2 separate regions of the Homo sapiens genome follow, and region 1 is linked to region 2. Evidence: fine-mapped expression QTL. A gene starts in region 2. The other region holds a variant in brackets. All regions are shown on one strand. Distances are between the middles of the regions.

Region 1 (5,487 bases), 79 kb after region 2:
GTTCATCTTCGTCCCACTGGATCTGTCCAAACTTTTCATTTTTGACAGATAAGGAAAATGAAGTTCAGATGCTTGAGTGACACAGCTAATTAGTGGCAAGGCTGAGACTTTTGACCAGACAGCCTGACTTTTAGTTTCTACCATGCATGTTAACTCCTCCTAAACCCCATTTATTTTCTCATTTCAGACAACTGCGCAATAACACTGCTAAGATAAAAGCACTCTGATTAATAAACACTGAAATTAAGCAGGTTAAGAAATATCTATTGTCCTTTTCTCAGAGTGATAATTTTAAAAACTGAAATTGGTCTTTTGCACTCGCAGTTTTCTCTTGCTTCCTTAAACATTTGCGAAATATGAGAACAATATAAATAGGTTCTCAAGCTCTGAGCAAACCCTTAACCATGTAAATAAGCCCCATAAAGAACAAAGCCTGGCCGGGTGCGGTGGCTCACGCCTATAACACCAGCACTTTGGGAGGCAGAGGTGGGAGGATCGCTTCAGCCCAGGAGTTCGAGACCAGCCTGGGGAACCTAGGGAGATCCTGTCTCTACAAAAAATACAGTAAATTAGCTGGGTGTGGTGGGGGCACGCCCGTAGTCCCAGCTACTCGGGAGGCTGACGTGGGAGGATCACTTGAACCTGGGAGTTTCAGGTCGCAGTGAGCTGTGATTACATCACTGGACTCCAGCCTGGGTGACAGAGCAAGACCCTGTCTCAAAACACAAATAAATAAATACATACATAAATACATAAAATAAAATAAATAAAAGTAGAGTAGAGTTGGTTCATTGCAACAGATACTGTCTGGCCCACAAAGCCCTTTACATATAGCAACTTACAGAAGAATTTGTGCCCCTGTGATAGATAGCATTGGAGGTTTCCGCCTAGGGAAAGCTGTGGTGCAGCCCTGAGAAGCGTCATGTGGTAAGATTCATCCCTCTGAGGGCATGAGATGGGCTGGGGCAGGGGAGATGAGAGCCCCTGCAGCGTGCTGCTCCATCCCCTGACAACACTGCCAGAGCCGCAGGAGGGTGGCAGCAACAGACGTGGAGAGACAAGGGCAGGTGCTAAGGAAAAACAGAACCTGGCTCCTGATGATGACAGTGGAGGAGAAGGGAGGATTCAAGGCTGCCTTTGAGACGCTGAGCTTCAGTTACCAGGTGTTTTCCATAGAATTGGAAGGTTCTGAGCTGGCTTGGGGTGAGCCTAGGAGCTGAACTTTAGATACTTGGCAATGCTGCAGACGGCTGGCAAGGTGGGGCTGGAACAGCTCGGTCAGAGATGTTGTTAATGGCCACATAGCTGGCAAAGGTACGCTGCAATGATTTAGGAGGGTTTAAAAAATTATATGTGTTTATGGCTGAACGCGGTGGCTTATGCCTGTAATCCCAGCACTTTGGGAGGCTGAGGAGGGCAGATTATTTGAGATCAGGAGTTCAAGAGCAGCCTGGCCAACGTGGTGAAACCCTGTCTCTGCTGAAAATACAAAAATTAGCTGGGTGTGGTGGCGCGCACCTGTAATCCCAGCTACTTGGAAGGCCAAGACAGGAGAATCGCTGGAACCCGGGAGGTGGAGGTTGCAGTGAGTCAGGATTGTGCCACTGCACTCCAGCCTTTGTGACAGAGCGAGACTCTATCTCAAAAAAAAAAAAAAAAATATATGTGTGTGTGTGTGTGTGTGTGTGTGTGTGTGTGTGTTTAATATAAATGGTGCTGAAACATGGCCATGACAGCACTCCCAAGACATGGGCCCTTCCTTCTGTTGTCACCTCAGTAAATTTCCCATGGGATAGGCTTCCAAAGGTCAAAGCCTGTGCCTTGTGTGCTCATGCCCTCTTCTGCTCCCTCTAGTACGGGGTGCCAGACATGCAGCACGCAGGAACCACTCCAGGTCCCTGGGCACGGACTACGGATGCTGAGTTATTTCAAGCCCAGCACGTTACTCACTTCAGCTCAGCACCTCTCACCTTGTCCTGAGGCTTTCAGTTCCAGTTTCAATTCACCGTTCAACCTTTTTTAAAATTTTTATTTATTTATTTATTTTTTTGAGACGGAGTCTTAAAAGAGCTTAGGAGCTGAGCTTTACATACTTGGCAATGCTGCAAATGGCTGGAGCGCAGTGGCGCGATCTCGGCTCACTGCAACCTCCACCTCCCAGGTTCAAGCAATTCTCCTGCTTCAGCCTCTCGAGTAACTGGGATTACGGGCACCTGCCACCACAATACATTTTTGTGTTTTCAGTAGAGACGGGGTTTCGCCACGTTGCCCAGGTAGGTATCCAGCTCCTGACCTCAGGTGATCCGCCCACATTGGCCTCCCAAAGTGCTGGGATTATAGGTGTGAGCCACCACGCCCGGCCTCCAGTAGCTCTTAAATTGCTTCTTTTTGGCCCTAAACACGATTTCCACATCTAGTTCTTCCAGTCCCTTTTGCAGGTTACCTCACTCCTCTTCTCTACATAAACTTCTGCAAAAGTTTACAAAAAATCTGTAAATGTTAGTGTATCTACAACCTATTTATTTATTTATTTATTATTATTATTTTTTCTGAGATGGAGTTTCACTCTTGTTGCCCAGGCTGCAGTGCAATGGCGCAATCTTGGCTCAGTGCAACCTCCGCCTCTCGGGTTCAAGTGATTCTCCTGCCTCAGCCTCCCAAGTAGCTGGGATTACAGGCATGTGCCACCATGCCGGCTAATTTTTGTATTTTTAGTAGAGATGGGGTTTCACCATCTTGGCCAGGCTGGTCTCGAACTCCTGACCTCAGGTGATCCACCCGCCTCAGTCTGTCAAAATGCTAGGATTACAGGGGTGAGCCACCACGCCTGGCCTACAATCTATTTAAAACATGATTAGGCCAGGCACAGTGGTTCATGCCTATAATCCCAGTGCTTTGGGAGGCTGAGGCAGGAAGATTGCTTGAGTCCAGGAGTTCAAGACCAGCTTGGGCAATATAGCGAGACCCCATCTCTACAAAAAAATACAAAACTTAGCCGGCGTGGTGGTGTGCACCTACGGTCCCACGGGAGGCTGAGGTGGGAGGATCACCTGAGCCCAGGGAGGTCGAGGCTGCAGTGAACTGTGATCGTGCCACTGCACTCCAGCCTGGGTGACAGAGTGAGACCCTGTTTTGGGAGAAAAACAAAAAAGATGATCAGTCCTTTGATGGAGTGACGAGTGGGGGTGAGACTAATTATGCCAGTAACTGATCTATTAGTATTTCAGCTCCTGGGAGGAAGACCATAGTCACGGGATCAATG[C/T]TGGAAAAGTTATAGTTTTGTTAAATAAATAAAAGCTTATCTTGTAATTCATTAAAATAACTGTCAATTTTTAATGAATTTCTATCTTGTAATTCATTAAAATAACTGTCAACGTTTCTACTGATTAGAACGTGTAAAGTTTATGACTATATATTTTGCCTGTCACTCCTTTGTGACAGCTCCTAGATGTTTTGACAGCTGGCATGCTCTGGGGAGCTGACCATGTAGCCAACTACCGTTTCTTTAGCCAGACATGTGAGCTATTTCAGCTCTGACCCTTGTTCGCTCACCCTTGACTTCTGCATCAAGCGGCAAGGGCAAGCTAGCATTTCTAGTCCTTATTTCTGTTCGTGTACATCCAAAATATATTGACAAGTCAATCCTATTGTTAAGAGCAAGCCAATTTCACAGAACTGCTATAAAAAATGGAAGAAACAAATTCCGTACACAACAAGGGAGACTTAATTTCACGAGCGTGAAGCAATTCCACTCTTTTAGGCTTGTATTTTGAAGCATCGTGGCTTATGAGAAGCCTGTTGTGTCCTGGCAAGGCTGACACTGTTTGCTTAACCTTATGTAGCTTTCTGCAAAAATTAATTTACTAAAACGTGACAAAATTTAAAAAATTTTAGAATATTATTGCTTCACTGAGGCTCAAATGAAAAATGCATGAAAACTATTTTTATATTTTTTCCTCTCCTTTAAGATGGACTTAAAATGCTAGTTTATTTTATTTTGTTATTTTGTGTTTTTTTTTTTGAGACAGAGTCTCTCTCTGTTGCCCAGGCTGGAGTGCAGTGGCCCGATCTTGGTTCAATGCAACCTCCACCTCCTGGGTTCAAGCAATTCTCCTGCCTCAGCCTCCCGAGTAGCTGGGACTAAAGGCGCATGCCACCACGCCTGGCTAATTTTTTGTGTTTTAGTAGAGATGGGGTTTCACCGTGTTGCCCAGGCTGGTGGCCAACTCCTGAGCTCAGGCAATCCGCCCACCTTGGCCTCCCAAAGTGCTGGGATTACAGACGTGAGCCACTGCCCCCGGCCACTAGTTTATTCTTTTGGAAAGATAAAGATAGGTTTTTTTTTTTTGTTTTTTTTTTTTTTTTTTTTTTGAGATGGAGTCTCCATCTGTCACCCAGGCTGGAGTGCAGTGGCGTAATCTTGGCTCACTGCAACCTTTGCCTCCCAGGTTTAAGCGATTCTCCTGCCTCAGCCTCCCGAGTAGCTGGGATTACAGGCTCCCGCCACCATGCCTGGCTAATTTTTGTATTTTTAGTAGAGATGGGGTTTCACCACGTTGGGCCAGTCTGGCCTCGAACGCCTGAGCTCAGGCAATCTGCCCTCCTCAGCCTCCCAAAGTGCTGGGATTACAGGCATGAGCTACCAACCCCGGCCAAAAATATCTTCTTTTAAAGGCAGAGACTGGAAAGGAATAGGGACGATTTAAAAACCCAACTCTTCCCATTATATTTGAAATGGTGAAATGCAGGTACTTTATTTTGCTTCCCAGTATTATTTGGGAAATTAAAAAAAAATGAGGAAAAGAAAAACTGTATTTTAATAATAACATAAAACTTGGTTCTACAGTGGTATTTTTCTTTTATAATATGTGTGTGTTATATGCACCAAAGTTGTTCTTCTCTTTTTAAAGAGAAACTTAAATAATGCTACATGTGGACAGTAGTAGGTGACAAATTTAATGGACTTAGTTTTTGGATCTTACTTGCCCTGGGTTGGTACTCTGTTAACAAAAATTAGTATAAGTCATTAAACTAAAAAGATTTCTAAATGGAAGTAATTAAAAACATGAAGAGCTGAGAAAATTTTTGTCAGATTCACCTAAGTCCAATCCTTAGCACATCTAATTATATATATATTTTTCATACATAGATATACACATCTAGGGTTTTTTCTTTCTTTTTCTTTTTTCTTTTCTTTTGAGACGGAGTCTCGCTCTGTCACCCAGGCTGGAGTGCAGTGGCGCGGTCTCAGCTCACTGCCAGCTCCGCCTCCCGGGTTCACGCCATTCTCCTGCCTCAGCCTCCGGAGTAGCTGCGACTACAGGCACCCGCCACCACGCCCGGCTAATTTTTTGTATTTTTAGTAGAGATGGGGTTTCATCTTGTTAGTCAGGATGGTCTCCATCTCCTGACCTCGTGATCCGCCCGCCTCGGCCTCCCAAAGTGCTGGGATTACAGGCGTGAGCCACCGCGCCCAGCCCATCTATG
Region 2 (5,209 bases):
TTTTTTTTTTTTTGAGACAGTTCTCTCGCTCTGTTGCCCAGGCTGGAGTGCAGCGCGTAATCTCGGCTCACTGCAACCTCCTCCTCCTCCCAGTTTCAAGTGATTCTCCTGTCTCAGCCTCCTGAGTAGCTGAGACTACAGGTGTCTGCCACTACGCCCGGCTAATTTTTTGTATTTTTAGTAGAGACAGGGTTTCACCATGTTTCTGGTCTCAAACTCCTGACCTTACGTGATCTGCCCACCTCGGCCTCCCAAAGTTCTGAGATTACAGACATGAGCCACTGTGCCTGGCCAAAGTCTTGGAAAGAAATATGAACCATGAGACCCAAACAATCTTGACATTTTAGTAGCCTAGAATCTTAGTATCTATTGATGTAAGAACCACGTATCTTAGAGATGTCATAGGCCTGAAAAACTCTAGAATTCCACTGCTATAGAACTTTACAACTGGCTGGGCGGGGTGGCTCACACCTGTAATCCCAGCACTTTGGGAGGCCGAGGCGGGTGGATCACCTGAGGTCAGGAGTTTAAGACCAGCCTGGCCAACATGGCAAAACCCCATCTCTACTAAAAATACAAAAATCAGCTGGGCATGGTGGCACACACCTGTAATCCCAGTTACTAGTGGGGCTGAGGCAGGAGGATAGCTTGAACCCAGGAAGCAGAGGTTACAGTGAGCCGAGATTGTGCCACTGAACTCCAGCCTGGGCAACAGAATGAGACTCCATCTCAAAACAAAAACAAAAAAAACAAAACTTTACAACCATAGAATCTTTGAATTGAAAAAGATTTTGAGGGGCGCAGTGGCTCACATCTGTAATCCTAGCACTCTAGGAGGCCAAGGCAGGCAGATTGCTTGAGCTCAGGAGTTCGAGACCAGCCTGGGCAACATAATGAGATCCCCATCTCTATAAACAATACAAAAATTAGTGAGGCATGGTGGTAAGTGCCTGTGGTCTCAGCTACTCAGGGGGATGAAGGCAGGAGGATTGCTTGAACCCAGGAGACTGAGGCTGCAGTGAGCTATTACTGTGCCACTACATTTTAGCCTGGGCACCAGAGAGAAACCCTGTCTCAAAAAAAAAAAAAAAAAAAGAAAAAAAAATAAGATTTCAACCCCCTCTTCATTCAAAACTTAAATTCAAAATTTAAATTTGGCCAGGTGCTGTGGCTTATACCTGTAATCTCAGCACTTTGAGAGGCTGAGGCAGGAGAATCACTTGAGGCCAGGAGTTTCAGACCAGCCTAGGCAACATGGTGAGACGCCCGCCTCTACAACAAGACACATTTAAAAATTAGGTCCTGCTGAGGCAGAAGGACCACTTAAGCCCAAAAGGTTGAGGCTGCAAGTGAGGTATGATCACACCGCTGCATTCCAGCCTGAGCCATGGAATGAGACATTGTCTCTTTAAATAAGGCCAGGCGCGGTGGCTCATGCCTGTAATCCCAGCACTTTGGGAGGCTGAGGTAGGCAGATCACAAGGTCAGGAGATCGAGAACATCCTGGCTAACACAGTGAAACCTCGTCTCTACCAAAAATACAAAAAGGTAGCCGGGTGTGGTGGCAGGCGCCTGTAGTCCCAGCTACTTGGGAGGCTGAGGCAGGAGAATGGTGTGAACCCGGGAGGGGGAGCTTGCAGTGAGCCGAGATCACGCCTCTGCACTCCAGCCTGGGCAACAGAGCGACTCCATCTCAAAAAAATAAAAAAGATAAATTCATAAAAGTATTTCAATGATTGTGAATGACAGGAGTCAGATCTTGATTTTTTTTTTTTTTTTGAGACGGAGTCTTACCCTATTGCCCAGGCTGGAGTGCAGCGGCGCGATCTCGCCTCACTGCAACCTGCAACCTCTGCCTCCCAGGTTCAAGTGATTCTCCTGCCTCAGCCTCCCAAGTAGCTGGAATTAACAGGCCCACACCACCACGCCCGGCTAATTTTTATATTTTTAGTAGAGATGGGGTTTCACCATGTTGGCCAGGCTGGCTTTTTTTTTGTTTTTAAGACAGTGTCTCGCTCAGTCACGCAGGCTGGAGTGCAGTCAAGGTTCACTGCGGCCTGACATCCTGGGCTCAAGTGATCCTCCTGCCTCAGCCTCCCAAAGTGCTGGGATTACAGGCATGAGCCACTGCACTCAGCCAGGGATCTCAATCTGGAAGCACAGCTCTGGTGATCCTCAAGGTGCAGTCAGCCCTCCCCCTCGTCTGCCCTGTCCCCAGCCCTGCTCCCCGCTGTTTATCCAGCTGTCTCCCAGCCCTCAGGACAGGAACCCCCTCTGCCTCCAAGTCGGCAAACTGCTCCAGACCCCTCCTCTTGGCCGCTGCCTGGGAGAAGGCCCCCACCGGCTACCTTGGCCCCCACCTTGCCTGGCCAGTCCTGTCCTGGGAGGGTCATGACCCAGCCCCAGGGCCATCGAGGAAAGGAGTGCCAGCCCTGGCTCCGGGTGCCCCACTCAGGCTGTCTATCTGATGCCCCCAACACTGCCCCGCCCCTGCCTGCTCCTGGCACCGGAGACCCTGCTGACTGTGCCAGGGGCTAATCTGGGAACTGGCAGCTGTGAGTCCTGGCCCTGCCACTCGACCTCTGGCGGCTAGCGGCGAGGCCCCTTCCTGACCTTCAGGGATCGGCCACCATGGTTGGTGGGACCAGGGTGAGGGTGGGCTGGGGTTGGAGCTGGAACTCTGGGGGGGTGGGACAGCTGGGCTTCTGGATGCTCCCTCAGAGGGACAGTCTCCCAGCCTGTGAGGGGATGGGAGGCTGGAGGGGGAAACAAGGGGACGAGGGCTGGGCTCCTGGGCCTGGGAGGGCCCTGGAGATGAACAGATGGCAGCGGCCACCTGCCCCAGGAGCCCTTGGCTGCAGTATGGGTGCGACCCTCCTGGGCCCCAGGCTGAGCCCACAGAGGCAGGAAGCCTGTGGCTATGGAGACCCCATCCCAAAGACGCTGCCCCTTGGTGAACCTTCCTCTCCCCTCCTGTAGGCAGACAGGGGAGGTGCTGAGCACAGGCCTCAGTCTGAAGCCTGTAGTCCATTTCTCCAGGTATGGGTTCTGGGACCATCCAGCTCTACCACCAGGGACACCCCAGGTCTGACCTCCTTCCTTCCTGCCCCCCAGTCCCACCGGAAGTTTTCCGCCCCTCGGCACGGACACCTGGGCTTCCTGCCCCATAAGAGGAGCCACCGGCACCGGGGCAAGGTGAAGACGTGGCCGCGGGATGACCCCAGCCAGCCCGTGCACCTCACGGCCTTCCTGGGCTACAAGGCGGGCATGACCCACACCCTGCGGGAGGTGCACCGGCCGGGGCTCAGTGAGTCACAGTTGGGACCCTTGGGGGAGGGGGAGGGCTGAACCTTCCAGATGCTCGGAGCCAGAACTCACGCTTTTGGTCCAGACAGGGCCACAGTCCCAGGGAGCACCAGGCCTCGCCCCCGGGAATTGGGGTGGACGCTGAGCACAGGCAGGGCTTCCGGGCGGGTTCTGTCATGGCCCCAGCTCGCAGATGAGGACATTGAGGCACAAAGCAGTGAGGAACCTGGTCCAGTCACCGGGGCGGTAAGCGCAGGAGCTAGGATTCAAAGGCCAGCGCCCCAAGCCCTCGGTTCAAACCACCTGCCAGGACATCTGCACTTTTTGGCCATTTCGGGTCTATTTCATGTACCATTATTTCATATGTACGCCTATGTATATAGTTAGTTTTTGTTGTTTTAATCGTAGATTCACAAGTAGTTGTAAGAAATAATGCAGGCCGGGCATGGTGGCTCACGCCTGTAATCCCAGCACTTTGGGAGGCCGAGGCAGGAGGATCATTTGAGGCCAGGAGTTGCAGACCAACCTGGACGGCATCGTGAAACCCTATCTCTACAAAAAATACAAAAATTAGCTGGGCGTTGTGGCGAGTGCCTGTAGTCGCAGCTACTTGGGAGGCTGAGGTGGGAGGATCACTTGAGCTTGGGAAGTCAAGGCTGCAGTGAGCTATGATTGCACCACTGCATTGCAGCCTGGGTGACAGAGTGAGACCCTGTCTCAAAAACAGAAAAAGAAATCCATTGTAATCATTAGAATAACAAATGCTCATTTGGGCTCAGCCCCACCCTCTGGGGAATGCTGTCCTGGCTGGCCCCACACTCTCCTGTCCTGCCCCTATGTGGGCGGCTCTCCACTCCCTCCCCCACAGGCCTCAGGAGGTCCCCCTTCATGCCCCATCCCTGTGTCTCATCCAGAAATTTCCAAACGGGAGGAGGTGGAGGCGGTGACAATTGTAGAAACGCCGCCCCTAGTGGTGGTGGGCGTGGTGGGCTACGTGGCCACCCCTCGAGGTCTCCGGAGCTTCAAGACCATCTTTGCAGAACACCTCAGTGATGAGTGCCGGCGCCGATTCTACAAGGACTGGTGAGCACCGCCCTTGGCTGGGCCGTCCAAGGGCTGCTGGGACCACAGAAGTTGGGTGCCTGAGGCTCTAGCTCTTGCTGAAATGATAGGTGTGGGTGAGTAGGAAGCGAAGTCTCAACCGTCTGTGGGAGGTAGGAGTGTCTGTGTGTGTGTGTGTGTGTGTTGTGTGGTTGCCTTCATTTCAATAAAAGATGAGTAGGCTGGGCGTGCTGGCTCACGCCTGTAATCCCAGCACTTTGGGAGGCCGAGGCGGGTGGATCACTTGAGGTCAGGAGTTTGAGACCAGCTTGGCCAACATGGTGAAACCCCATCTCTACCAAAAAATACAAAAATTAGCTGGCTGGGGTGGTGCGCACCTGTAGTCCAGCTACTCAGGAGGCTGAGGTGGGAGAATCACTTGAACTGGGAGGTGAAGGTTGCAGTGAGCTGAGATCGTGCCACTGCACTGCAGCCTGGGTGGCAGAGTGAAACCCTGTCTCAATCTCAAGAAAAACACAAAAAACAAAAAACATGAGTACTAGAAGGCTGGAGATGAAATCAGGATGGAGGAAAAAGAGGAAACAAATATTCTAATCCTCAGGGTTAATTAAAAGGCTAATTTGGGCGGCTTGTGGTGGCTCACGACTGTAGTAGTCCCAGCACTTTGGGAGGCCAAGGCGGGTGGCTCATTTGAGGTCAGGAGTTCGAGACCAGCCTGGCCAACATGGTGAAAACCCGTCTCTACTAAAAATACAAAAAAAAAAATAAAAATAAAAAAATAAGCTGGGCGTGGTGGCAGACACCTGTAATCCCAGCTACTTGGGAGGCTGAGGCAGGAGAA

What was found. PIP is the estimated chance that this variant, and not a neighbour inherited with it, causes the effect. A credible set is the group of variants that fine-mapping cannot tell apart.
Region 1: its variant is the best candidate, but not a certain one, in a credible set for the expression of RPL3L in whole blood (TOPMed, PIP 0.80).

The regions. Positions count from the first base shown.
Region 1 is chr16:1,873,054-1,878,540 of GRCh38, reverse strand. LINC00254 (long intergenic non-protein coding RNA 254) reads left to right here. Exons shown (of 3, transcript NR_033914.1): 3 at 1-256. Among named protein-coding and RNA genes, the nearest start is that of MEIOB, 3.6 kb to the right of the region's middle. The variant C/T (reference allele first, on the strand shown) is at 3,263.
Region 2 is chr16:1,952,054-1,957,262 of GRCh38, reverse strand. RPL3L (ribosomal protein L3 like) reads left to right here and starts at 2,574. Exons shown (of 10, transcript NM_005061.3): 1 at 2,574-2,634; 2 at 3,115-3,307; 3 at 4,221-4,389. The coding sequence starts at 2,632. RefSeq lists an enhancer at 2,870-3,859.